2 separate regions of the Homo sapiens genome follow, and region 1 is linked to region 2. The links come from fine-mapping of genetic effects on gene expression. A gene starts in region 2. The other region holds a variant in brackets. All regions are shown on one strand. Distances are between the middles of the regions.

The links. PIP is the estimated chance that this variant, and not a neighbour inherited with it, causes the effect. A credible set is the group of variants that fine-mapping cannot tell apart.
Region 1: its variant is the best candidate, but not a certain one, in a credible set for the expression of MED24 in caudate (GTEx, PIP 0.60).

The regions. Positions count from the first base shown.
Region 1 is chr17:40,267,950-40,273,325 of GRCh38, reverse strand. All of the region lies in intron 5 of WIPF2 (WAS/WASL interacting protein family member 2), which reads right to left. Among named protein-coding and RNA genes, the nearest start is that of CDC6, 17 kb to the left of the region's middle. The variant C/T (reference allele first, on the strand shown) is at 3,189.
Region 2 is chr17:40,052,141-40,057,516 of GRCh38, reverse strand. MED24 (mediator complex subunit 24) reads left to right here and starts at 3,109. Exons shown (of 26, transcript NM_014815.4): 1 at 3,109-3,156; 2 at 3,882-4,048; 3 at 4,137-4,219. The coding sequence starts at 3,919. RefSeq lists an enhancer at 2,850-2,909.

The DNA.
Region 1 (5,376 bases), 220 kb before region 2:
TGATGGCTCACGTCTATAATCCTAGCACTTTGGGAGGCCGAGGCGGGAGGATTGCCTGAGCTCAGCAGTTGGAGACCAGCCTGGGCAACATGATGAAACTCCATCTCTACTAAAAATACAAAAAATTAGCCCGGTGTGGTGGCGTGTGCCTGTAGTCCCAGCTCCTCAGGAGGCTGAGGCACAAGAATCACTTGAACCTGGGAGGTGGAGGTTGCAGTGAGCCCAGATTGTGCCACTGCACTCCAGCCTGGGCAACAGAGAGAGACTCCATCTCAAATACATAAATAAGTAAAAAAATAAAGTCTCAAAGCCTTTGCTTACATAGTAACCTACCACACCAATCAGCTTGAGCTTGGCTTCTCCTCTTCCCTTCTTATTGCTAGGCTAGGTTAGGAGCCCTCCTCTGCACTTCCACTGCAGCTTGTGCATACCTACCACTTGAATAGACTATTATAATTATTTATTCTGTGTGCTCTTTCCCCAGTATACTGTGTACCCCTTGATGTCAGAGCAGTTCCTCCTTCTGGGTTCCCAAGTTCAGCCAAATGTACAGCACACAGCAGGTGCTCAATCAATGTTTGCTGAATAAACCAAATTATATGCTTTGCTCTTGTGACTCCCCTCACAATATTCTGATATCCCCCCTTCCCTTACTACCAAATCCTCCCTACCCTTCAAGGTTCAATCCAAGTCCCATCTTCTCAAGGCTTTCCCAAAGCAATCCATTTTCTTCTGAGTCCCTCCACCTCTGCTCTCCCACAGCATATACAGGCTATGTCACTTACTCTAATATCAATGAGCGATTTTCAAAATATATACAGCAGATTCATTGTGGGAAGTTACATATGTCCAGTAACAGTCTCATTGCTCAAACACTGCAAACACCTCTTTTGGAATTGCCTCCAAAGCAAGTTTATCAGTCAGAGCTGTAAACACTATTATATGATGGTCACATTTCATTTCTGAGGTCGCCCCACCACCATCACCAATGAAAATATTCATACCTATGCCAGGCACGGTGGCTCACGCCTGTAATCCCAGCACTTTGGGAGGCCGAGGCGGGAGGATCACCTGAGGTCGGGAGTTCGAGACCAGCCTGATCAACATGGAGAAACCCAGTCTCTATTAAAATACAAAAATTAGCCAGATGTGGTGGTGCATGCCTGTAATCCCAGCTACTCGGAAGGCTGAGGCAGGAGAATTGCTTGAACCCAAGAGGCGGAGGTTGCGGTGATCCAAGATCGTGCCATTGCACTCCAGCCTGGGCAACAAGAACAAAACTCTGCCTCAAAAAAAAAAAAAAGAAAATGTTCATACCTATGTCTGAATCTGCTTTTTGGTGATTCCAAAAATCAAATTCACTCTTAAAAGATGAAAATTTGCCACCAAGTAGAAGGTAACGTCAAAAGCATGTGTCAAGAAATGGCAATATGACTGGAATATAATAGATTCTAACGTGTTTGTCTTACTCCTATGCTCTGTATTAACTAACAATAATAGCAGCTACCATTTATTGGGTATCTATTATGTTCCAGGCATTTTCGGTGTATTAAATCTTTAAAAAGTCTTATAGCCACACATGCGAAGTATGTAATATTATCCCCATTTCACAAATGAGAAAACTGGGACTCAGGTTATTTGTTTAAGGTCACAGATCAAATAAAAATAGGCAAGGCACATGTCTGCTCTTTCTACTCTCCCACACTGCTTTTCGTAACTCCCAGTATTCTGCATAGTATCTTCCCAACCAGATTTACAATCCAGTGGCTTGGAAGTGCATCTTTTGGTATCTAGGCCATGTTCAATTTTTTTTTTTTTTTAAGAGACAGGGTCTCACTCTGTCACCCAGGTTAAAGCGCAGTGGTGGAATCATAGCTCAGTGCAGCTTCAAACTCCTGGGCTCAAGCAATGCTCCCGCCTCAGCAAAGGGCTGGGATTATAGGCATGTGCCACAGCACGTGGCCCAATAAATAGTTGTGACCTAAATAGTATGTGAAGAGACTACTCAGCTTAACAGACAAAACTGTTTTTAGTAGTAAAACGGTATCTTGGCTAGGCATAGTGGCTCACATCTGTAATCCCAACACTCTGGGAGGCTGAGGCAGGCAGATTGCTTGATGCCAGGAGTTCGAGATCAGCCTGGGCAACATGATGAAACCTCACCTCAAATTTTAAAAAAGTACAAAAATTAGCCAAGCGTGGTGGCACACGCCTGCAATCCCAGATATTCTGGAGCCTGAGGTGGGAGGAGCTTGAACCTGGGAGATGGAGGCTGCAATAAGCCAACATCGCGCCACTGCACTCCAGCCTGGTGACACAGCAAGACTGTCTCAAAGAAAAGAGTATCTTATTATTCCTCCTGATTACTATCAGAATTGCTGTAGTGACTATAGTTAAGCATGTAACACAGTAATAGAATAACATACACACACACACACACACAATCTGGCACAATAAGCCCAATAAATGTTTTTGCTTCCCGTAAGACACACTCAGAATGTCAACTCTTCCTCACTGTTTCCAAGCTTTGTTCAGTAGAAACAGGGGACACTAGATGCAATAATTAAAGAGAAATCTTGTAACTCCCAGCAGATCTCTGAGCCTTGTTTTGATTCCAAATCTACTCAAACTAAAGCTCTTTAAGAATAGAAGCTTCTTTAAGCCCTCAAAAATATTCCCTAAAACCCAGATTCCTCAAGGCCCTGAGAATTTGTATCTACTCCTAGGCCAGGGCAGCAAGGTAAACAGGGTTAGCCAGGTTCACAAGGACACCGACACCAGCTAGACACCAGGCAGGTGACAGCGATGAGACGACCTGGAATGGCAAAATAGAGCAGGGTAAGAGTGATCTGTTTGGCTTCTCCAGCTCCCTCCCTCATCCCAGCCAGGTTCTGCTGTCTCCAATAAGCTTCTGGGCTCTTTGTCAGATCCAGTTATTTTTCTTTTTTTTTTTTTTTTTTGAGACGGAGTCTCGCTCTGTCCCCCAGGCTTGAGTACAGTGGCACGATCTCGGCTTACTGCAAGCTCCGCCTCCCGGGTTCATGCCACTCTCCTGCCTCAGCCTCCCCAGTAGCTGGGACTACAGGCACCCGCCACCACGCCCGGCTCATTTTTGTATTTTTAGTAGAGAGACAGGGTTTCACCGTGTTAGCCAGGATGGTCTCAATCTCCTGACCTCATGATCTGCC[C/T]GCCTCAGCCTCCCAAAGTGCTGGGATTACAGGCATGAGCCACCGCACCCGGCCCCAGATCCAGTTTTAAGACTGTTTCAAGTGACAGAGCCAGAACTCCAGTCCCTAAAAAACAATTTCCAAAAGAAGTCCTGGGATGGGAGACAGGCTTTTGTAATCCAAGATTAACCCTAATTTTGAGAAAAGTATGATGGTTTCTATTTTTCTCAAATTCCCTTAAAAATGGACAGTGTTGGCGGGTGCAGTGGCTCATGCCTATAATCCCAGCACTTTGGGAGGCCAAGGCAGGCGGATCACAAGGTCAGGAGATAGAGACCATCCTGGCTAACATGGTGAAACCCCATCTCTACTAAAGATACAAAAAAATTAGTCGGGTATGGTAGCGGGTGCCTGCAGTCCCAGCTACTCGGGAGGCTGAGGCAGGAGAATGGCGTGAACCTGGGAGGTGGAGCTTGCAGTGAGCCGAGATCGCGCCACTGCACTCCAGCCTGGGCGACAGAGCAAGACTCCATCTCAAAAAAAAAAAAAAAAAAAAAAGACAGTGTTTTACTCTGCAAAGAAAAAATTCTTGAAACAAACTCTATGAACCAATAATGCTAGTTTTTGGGTTTTGGGGGGGCGGGTTTTGAGGCAGGGTCTTGCTCTGCTGCCTAGGCTGGAGTGCAGTGGCGTGATCTCAGCTCTCTGCAGCCTCTGCCTCCTGGGCTCAAGTGATCCTCCCATCCTAGCCTCCCAAGTAGCTGGGACCACAGGCACACGCTACCACGCCTGGCTAGGTTTCTTAAATTTATTTTTATTTATTTATTTATTTATTTTTTGAGACAGAGTCTCGCTCAGTCACCCATGCTGGAGTGCAGTGGTGCAATCTTAGCTCACTGCAACCACAATCTCCCGGGTTCAAGCGATTCTCCCGTCTCAGCCTCTCGAGTAGCTGGGATTACAGGCACCCGCCATCATGCCTGGCTAATTTTTGTATTTTAGTAGAGAGATGGGGTTTCACCATGTTGGCCAGGCTGGTCTTGAACTCCTGACCTCAGGTGATCTGCCTGTCTCAGCCTCCCAAATTGCTAGGATTACAGGCGTGAGCCACTGCACCCGGCCTAGTTTTTTTATTTTTTGTAGTAATGGGGTTTCACCATGTTGCCCAGGCTGGTCTTGAACTCCGTCTCAAGCGATCCTCCTGCCTCAGCCTCCCAAAGCACTAGGATTACAAGTGTGAGCCTGTGTCCCTGACCCCCACTGTACTTTTCAAATGTACATTTTACAGGTGAGAAAAGAGAATCGGTGAGAAAAGAGAATCAGTGATCTGTCCAATGTCACACAACAAATCGAGGCAATACTCAAATGATCTCTGACTAAAATATCTCAATTTTTTTCTGGTTTATCACTCTTAAGAATTGCTGCTCTAGCCAGGTACAATTGCTCACATCTGTAATCCCAGGGCTTCGGGAGGCCAAGGTGGGAGGATGGCTTGAGCCCAAGAGTTTGAGTCCAGCCTGGGCAACACAGACCTCATCTTAAAAAATAAAAATAAAAAAAAATTTTAATGAGCCAGACATGGTGGCAACACTCCTGTAGTCCTAGCTACCACAGAGAAAGAATGGAAAAGTGGGAAGCAAGAAAGCCTGCAGACATTTAAAAGTGCTCAGCTCAACCCACGGAAATTGCATTTTTCTCTTCTTCTATTCCTGGATGAGGTCAGAAAGATATGAGCTTTGCTCAGACAAAGAGTCTTTTGTAAAATCCCTAAGTTAAAAAAAAAGTCAAACCTGAACTTTATAGAATCAAGGGCCACCTTAGCACTACCTCATTATGGCTAAAGCTAGGGAGATATGGGATCAGGAATGCAGTAGGCCACTGTTTGGCTGCCCTATGTTAGATGGCCAGCTGCTAGAGTACAAATCTGTATGTACTGAACAAAGAAGCTGCACACAGGTTAATGGACTTTTAATGCCTTGCTACTTAATGATATAACCTTTACCCTTTTTTTGGGACAACGTCTTGCTGTGTTGCCCAGGCTGAAGTGCAGTGGCACTAATACAGCTCACTGCAGCCTCCACCTCCCAGGCTCAAGTGGTCTTCCCACCTCAGCCACTCAAGTAGCTGGGACTACAGGCATGCACCGCCATGCCAGGCTAATTTTTTAAAATTATTTTTTGTAGAGACAGGGTTTTGCCATGTTGCCCAG
Region 2 (5,376 bases):
TAGGACGGGGCTTTGAGATGGGCTGGAGGGCTTTTTTTTTTTTTTTTGAGACGAAGTTTCGCTCTTGTTGCCCAGGCTGGAGTGCAATGGTGCAATCTCAGCTTACCGCAACCTTCGCCTCCTGGGTTCAAGCAATTCTCCTACCTCCATCTCCCGAGCAGCTGGGATTACAGGCATGCGCCACCATGCCCGGCTAATTTTGTTTTTTAGTAGAGATGGGGTTTCTCCATGTTGGTCAGGCTGGTCTCGAACTCCTAACCCCAGGTGATCTGCCTGCCTTGGCTTCCCAAAGTGCAGGGATTAGAGGTGTGAGCCACCGCGCCCGGTTGGGGGGCTGTTTTTTTGTACACCCAAAGGAAATGTTAGCATCTCTCTTCACCCTTTGGAGGATTATCATGGGGTCCCGGTCCTGTGCTTGCAGTGAGCCAGAGAGCCCAAGGGGGTCCCTAGGAAGATATTGTGGTGTGGAAGGAAGAGGTGATATAGGAAAGGCTGCCTCTGATGTTTACAGACTAGAGAGGCAGGGAGGTCAAAGTGGATAAACTAAAAATGGTCCTTGCCCAGAGCTAAGGGAGCCTTTGTACATAGGAGTCCAGCCTTTGGGGAAACCTTGCCAAGCCTAGAGAAAGGGCTGCTGGTGGGAGGTGGGGAGACAGAGAAGGCAGATGGCCTGACTACAAAAGCCGCCTCCCTGTCACTGCGAAGTGGGGAGGAGGCACCTCCCTAGAAATCTGCCAGGCTCCCTGCCAGAGGGAATGGTTTGAGCTCAAAATATCACCATCCTCAGGGCCCAAATAGTCCCCAGTCCTGTGTGGACCGGACACACAGTTGACAGCTTCTCTCCAAGAGAGGCAGTTTGGGCTCTGAGGTATGCGACAGGGGCTCCAGGATGATCCAGGAATGGCTCCAGGTGGAGGGCCTTAGGCTGTGGCTACAGGCACAGAATGACAGCAGGGGAGCAGGCAAAGGTAGAGTGAGGGGCCTGGGAGAACAGGGGAAGTCAGATATGTGAGAGACTGAGGAGAAGCAGGGTTTGTGGCAGTCTCAAGTATGAGTGGAGTGGCCGGGGGTCATCTGGAAGGTGAGGTGAGGAATCCGTATTTCCCTCCTTCCTGCTTTAGAAGCTTTGGCAACATATATTTGGCAGCTGTTTTGTATACACACTATTCCCCAATGGTGTCACTTGGGCAGGCACAAAGGGAGCCTAAGAGAGGGGTGTGGATTGAATGTATGGGGAGGAAGAAAGGCCATAGGCAGTACCAACCGCAGGAGGACATGATCTGACCCTCCTTCAGCCACACTCTCCCCTTTGGAACAGAAGTTCTTGACTCCCTGTTTAGACCATTCTCCAGACACCCAGGGCGCTGTAATTCTCTGCCCAAATGGCCACAGTTTTGCTTCCAGAGCCTTAAGTGGGCTGCTCTCCCAGATTTATCCTCCCGAGGACTGATTTTGCCACTCAAAGGGTGAGCAAAGAATGGTTGTTGGAGGCTAGGCACGGTGGCTCATGCCTACAGTCCTAGCACTCTGGGAGGCCAAGGTGGGTGGCTGAGGTCAGGATTTTGAGACCACCCTGGCCGACATGGCGAAACCCTGTCTCTACTAAAAATACAAAAATTAGTCGGATGTGGTGGCACACGCCTGTAATCCCAGCTACTTGGGAGGCTGAGGCAGGAGAATTGCTTAAACCTGGGAGGCAGAGGTTGCAGTGAGCTGAGACTGCGCCATTGCACTCCAGCCTGGGCAACAGAGCAAGCCTCCATCTCAAAAAAAAAAAAAAAAAGAATCTTTGTTGAGGAATACAGATTGAGCTTGAACTTGTGAACTAGGATATTGGGCCCTGGCTAAAGGCCTCCATGTTTATTTATTTATGTATTTTGGTAGAGCTGAGAGTCTCATTATGTTGCCCAGGCTGGATTTGAACTCCCGAGCTCAAGTGATCCTCCTTTCTCAGCCTCCCGAGTAATTTACTCTTATTCCTGGTTGTAAATGTTAGGGATGACCAGTCCATAGCATGGGGAGGGATGAGGGCTATGCATAAGAAGGCTCAGACATTGGAGCCTCCAGAGGTGGGTAACATTTGCTTTCGGGTTTCTCACTGGGGGAAGGAAAGGCTATGGCCAAAGCCCTGGGCATAATTTATATATGGATCTTTGGGATAAGCAAGATTTAAACAACAACAACAACAACAACAACAAGAAACTTAAAAAAACAAGTTTTTAATTTACAGGAAAAAAATGGAAGGTAATAGAGGGTCCCCACATATTCTGCACCCAATTTCTCTTTTTATTAACATCTTAGCATTAGTATTATGCATTTGTAACAACTAATGAACTAATATTGATACATTATTATTAATTAAAGTCCACCCTTTATTTAGATTTCCTTAGTTTTTACCCAGTATTCTTTTTCTCTTCCATGATCGCATTCAGAAAACCACATTACATTTAGTCATCAGGTCTCCTTAGCCCTCTTAGTTGTGACAGTTTCTCAGAATTCCTTTGATTTTGATCACCTTCACCTTAGTTTCCTCTTTACTTTCCCTTGTATCCAAGCTGTATGGAGGGCCTGGAGATTCTGATAGGACTGTAAGATTCGGGGACGGTGATATGTGTGCAACTAAGGCACCTCGGTGTCGCTTTTAGAATATAGTTGTGGAAATGAGAATAGCTCTGGTAGCTCCAGGGGCTTAGGAGAACAGAAAGAGCCCAGGAAAGGAGAAAGACCTTATTGCTGAACGCCACACCCTTGCCCCCACGCCACACCCTTGCCGCACCTACTAACTAGGGGCTAACGAATGAAAGGGTGTCGGAATATGATGGAGAAGCCCGGTCGACAGTGACGTCGTGGGCGACGCCGGGTTGTGAGCGGCCTTTCGAGCTCCCTCGAGTCCCTGAGTCTCTGTAGTGCCTCAGCTCCTGGATGTCCTCCCTTAAAGGAGAAGAACAATGCGGGCCGACTAGACGAGTCCCTTAGTTTCCTCGCCGGCGCAGACAAATACGGTTTCAGTCCAAGGAACTACCATTCCCAGAAGACAGCGGGGCGTTCCTTGCTGCATTTCTATTGGTTGGCGTTTGTTACTCCCAGCCAATAGAAAGTGAGCTTCTTGACAAGTGCCAAAATGGCGATGCCTACCACCTAGAACTGGATTGTGCGGTAGGCTTAAATTTGGGGAGGTGGTGGATGAAAAGGAAATTGGGAGGTATAGTTACAGGGCTGGAGAAGGTGGAGGAAATGAGGGAGCAAATCTGGACTTGGAATGGTGGTGGCCAAGGGACGCTTTTAGAGCTAAGGGCGTAATTAGGCAACCAGGACTGCCTTAACTCCTTGATGCCCTGTTTAATCTATTAGTCCCTTTGATACTTCTTTATTCATTTATTTGAGAGACGGAGTTTTGCTCTTGTTGCCCAGGCTGGAGTGCAATGGTGCGATCTCGGCTCACCCCAACAACCTCCGCCTCCCGGGTTCAAGCGATTCTACTGCCTCAGCCTCCCGAGTAGCTGGGATTACAGGCATGCACCACCAAGCCCGGCTAATTTTGTATTTTTAGTGGAGACGAGGTTTCTCCATGTTGGTCAGGCTAGTCTCGAACTCCTGACCTCCGGTGATTCGCCCGCCTCTGCCTCCCGAAGTGCTGGGATTACAGGTGCGAGCCACTGCGCTCGGCCGATACTTTCTTAGTGCCCCAGTTTAAGGAAGGGCGGTTCAGGAGGAGAGAGTCTGACAGGATCTTACTTTATCCCTTTAGCTCTTTTTCTTTCAAATTCCTCTGTCTCGCTTAAATCTTCCCGCATCTTCTCCTTTCTATTTAATTCTGCCTTCCCCGGTTCTCCTTAGAACCTCATGTCCTTTTCTTTAGCTCCATTTCTTTCACCTCAAAGCTGGCCGCCACCGCTGCCACCTGCTCAGAGTGAAATAATGAAGGTGGTCAACCTGAAGCAAGCCATTTTGCAAGCCTGGAAGGAGCGCTGGAGTGACTACCAATGGGCAATCAACATGAAGAAATTCTTTCCTAAAGGAGCCACCTGGGATATTCTCAACCTGGCAGGTCTCAAGTGAACTGGGAAAGAAAGATGGGAGGGATAAACCCAGAGAAGTTGTAATCACTCAGTTGTGTTTTGCTATTCCTCTTGCAGATGCGTTACTAGAGCAGGCCATGATTGGACCATCCCCCAATCCTCTCATCTTGTCCTACCTGAAGTATGCCATTAGTTCCCAGGTAAGCTTCCCGCAAACCCCCACCAAGAAGTGAGAGTTCTGGGGGTAAAAAACTTGGAGTGCATTTGGGCCCCGGTGGTTCATGGCTGTAATCCCAGCATTGTGGGAGGCTGAGGCAGGCGGATTGCTTGAGCCCAGGAGTTCAAGACCAGCCTGCGTAACATGGCAAAACCCAGTCTCTACCCAAAAATACAAAGAGTTACCCCTGCGTGGTGGTGCCCCTGTAGTCCCAGCTACTTGGAAGGCTGAGGTGGGAGGATCACCTGAGCCCTGGGAGGTCGAGACTGCAATGAGCCATGATCCTGCCACTGCCCTCCAGCCAGAGCAACAGAGTGAGACCCTGTCTCAGGAAAGAAACAAACAAACACAATTTGGGGTGCAGTTGTACAATTGTCAGCTTACTCTTTCTAGATGAAAGAGTAAGATTCTAGATTGATCTGTTTGAACAGATCATTTCAGTGAGTTTCAGTGTTCTCATAAAAATAATACTTCATTTGTTGTGATGAATATTACATTCACTTATTCTGCTGGGAGTGGTAGCAGGTAGCACAGGCCTGTGGCCCCACCTACTCAGAAGGTGGAGGTAGGAGGCTTGCTTGAGCCCAGGAGTTTGAGGCTACAGTGAGCACTGATTGTGCCACTGCACTCCAGCCTGGGCAACAGAACAACACTCCGTCTATTAAAAACAACAACAAGCAAAAGAAAAAAAGAGGATTACATTCACCTATTCTATCAACAAATACTCATGAATGCTTTTATGTGCCAGACAGTGCTTAGCCCCTGGGGAATATAGCTGTGAACAAAACCCGATGTCAGTACACAGAAAATTTAGTGGGTAATATAGACATGTAAATAAGCAGTCACTAGATGGGTTTATGATAAAGGTTAGGATAGAGTACAGATGCTCCTCAACTTACAATGGGGTGATGTGCTGATATACCACTCATAAGTTGAAAATGTACTTAATACACATAACTTGCCAAAGGTCATCTACCTACCTTTTTTTGAGTCAGAGTCTTGCTCTATCGCCCAGGCTGGAGTGCAGTGGCGTGACCTCGGCTCACTGCAACCTCCGTTTCCCGGGTTCAAGCGATTCTCCTACCTCAGCCTCCCGAGTAGCTGGGACTACAGGTGCCTGCCATCACGCCTGGCTAATTT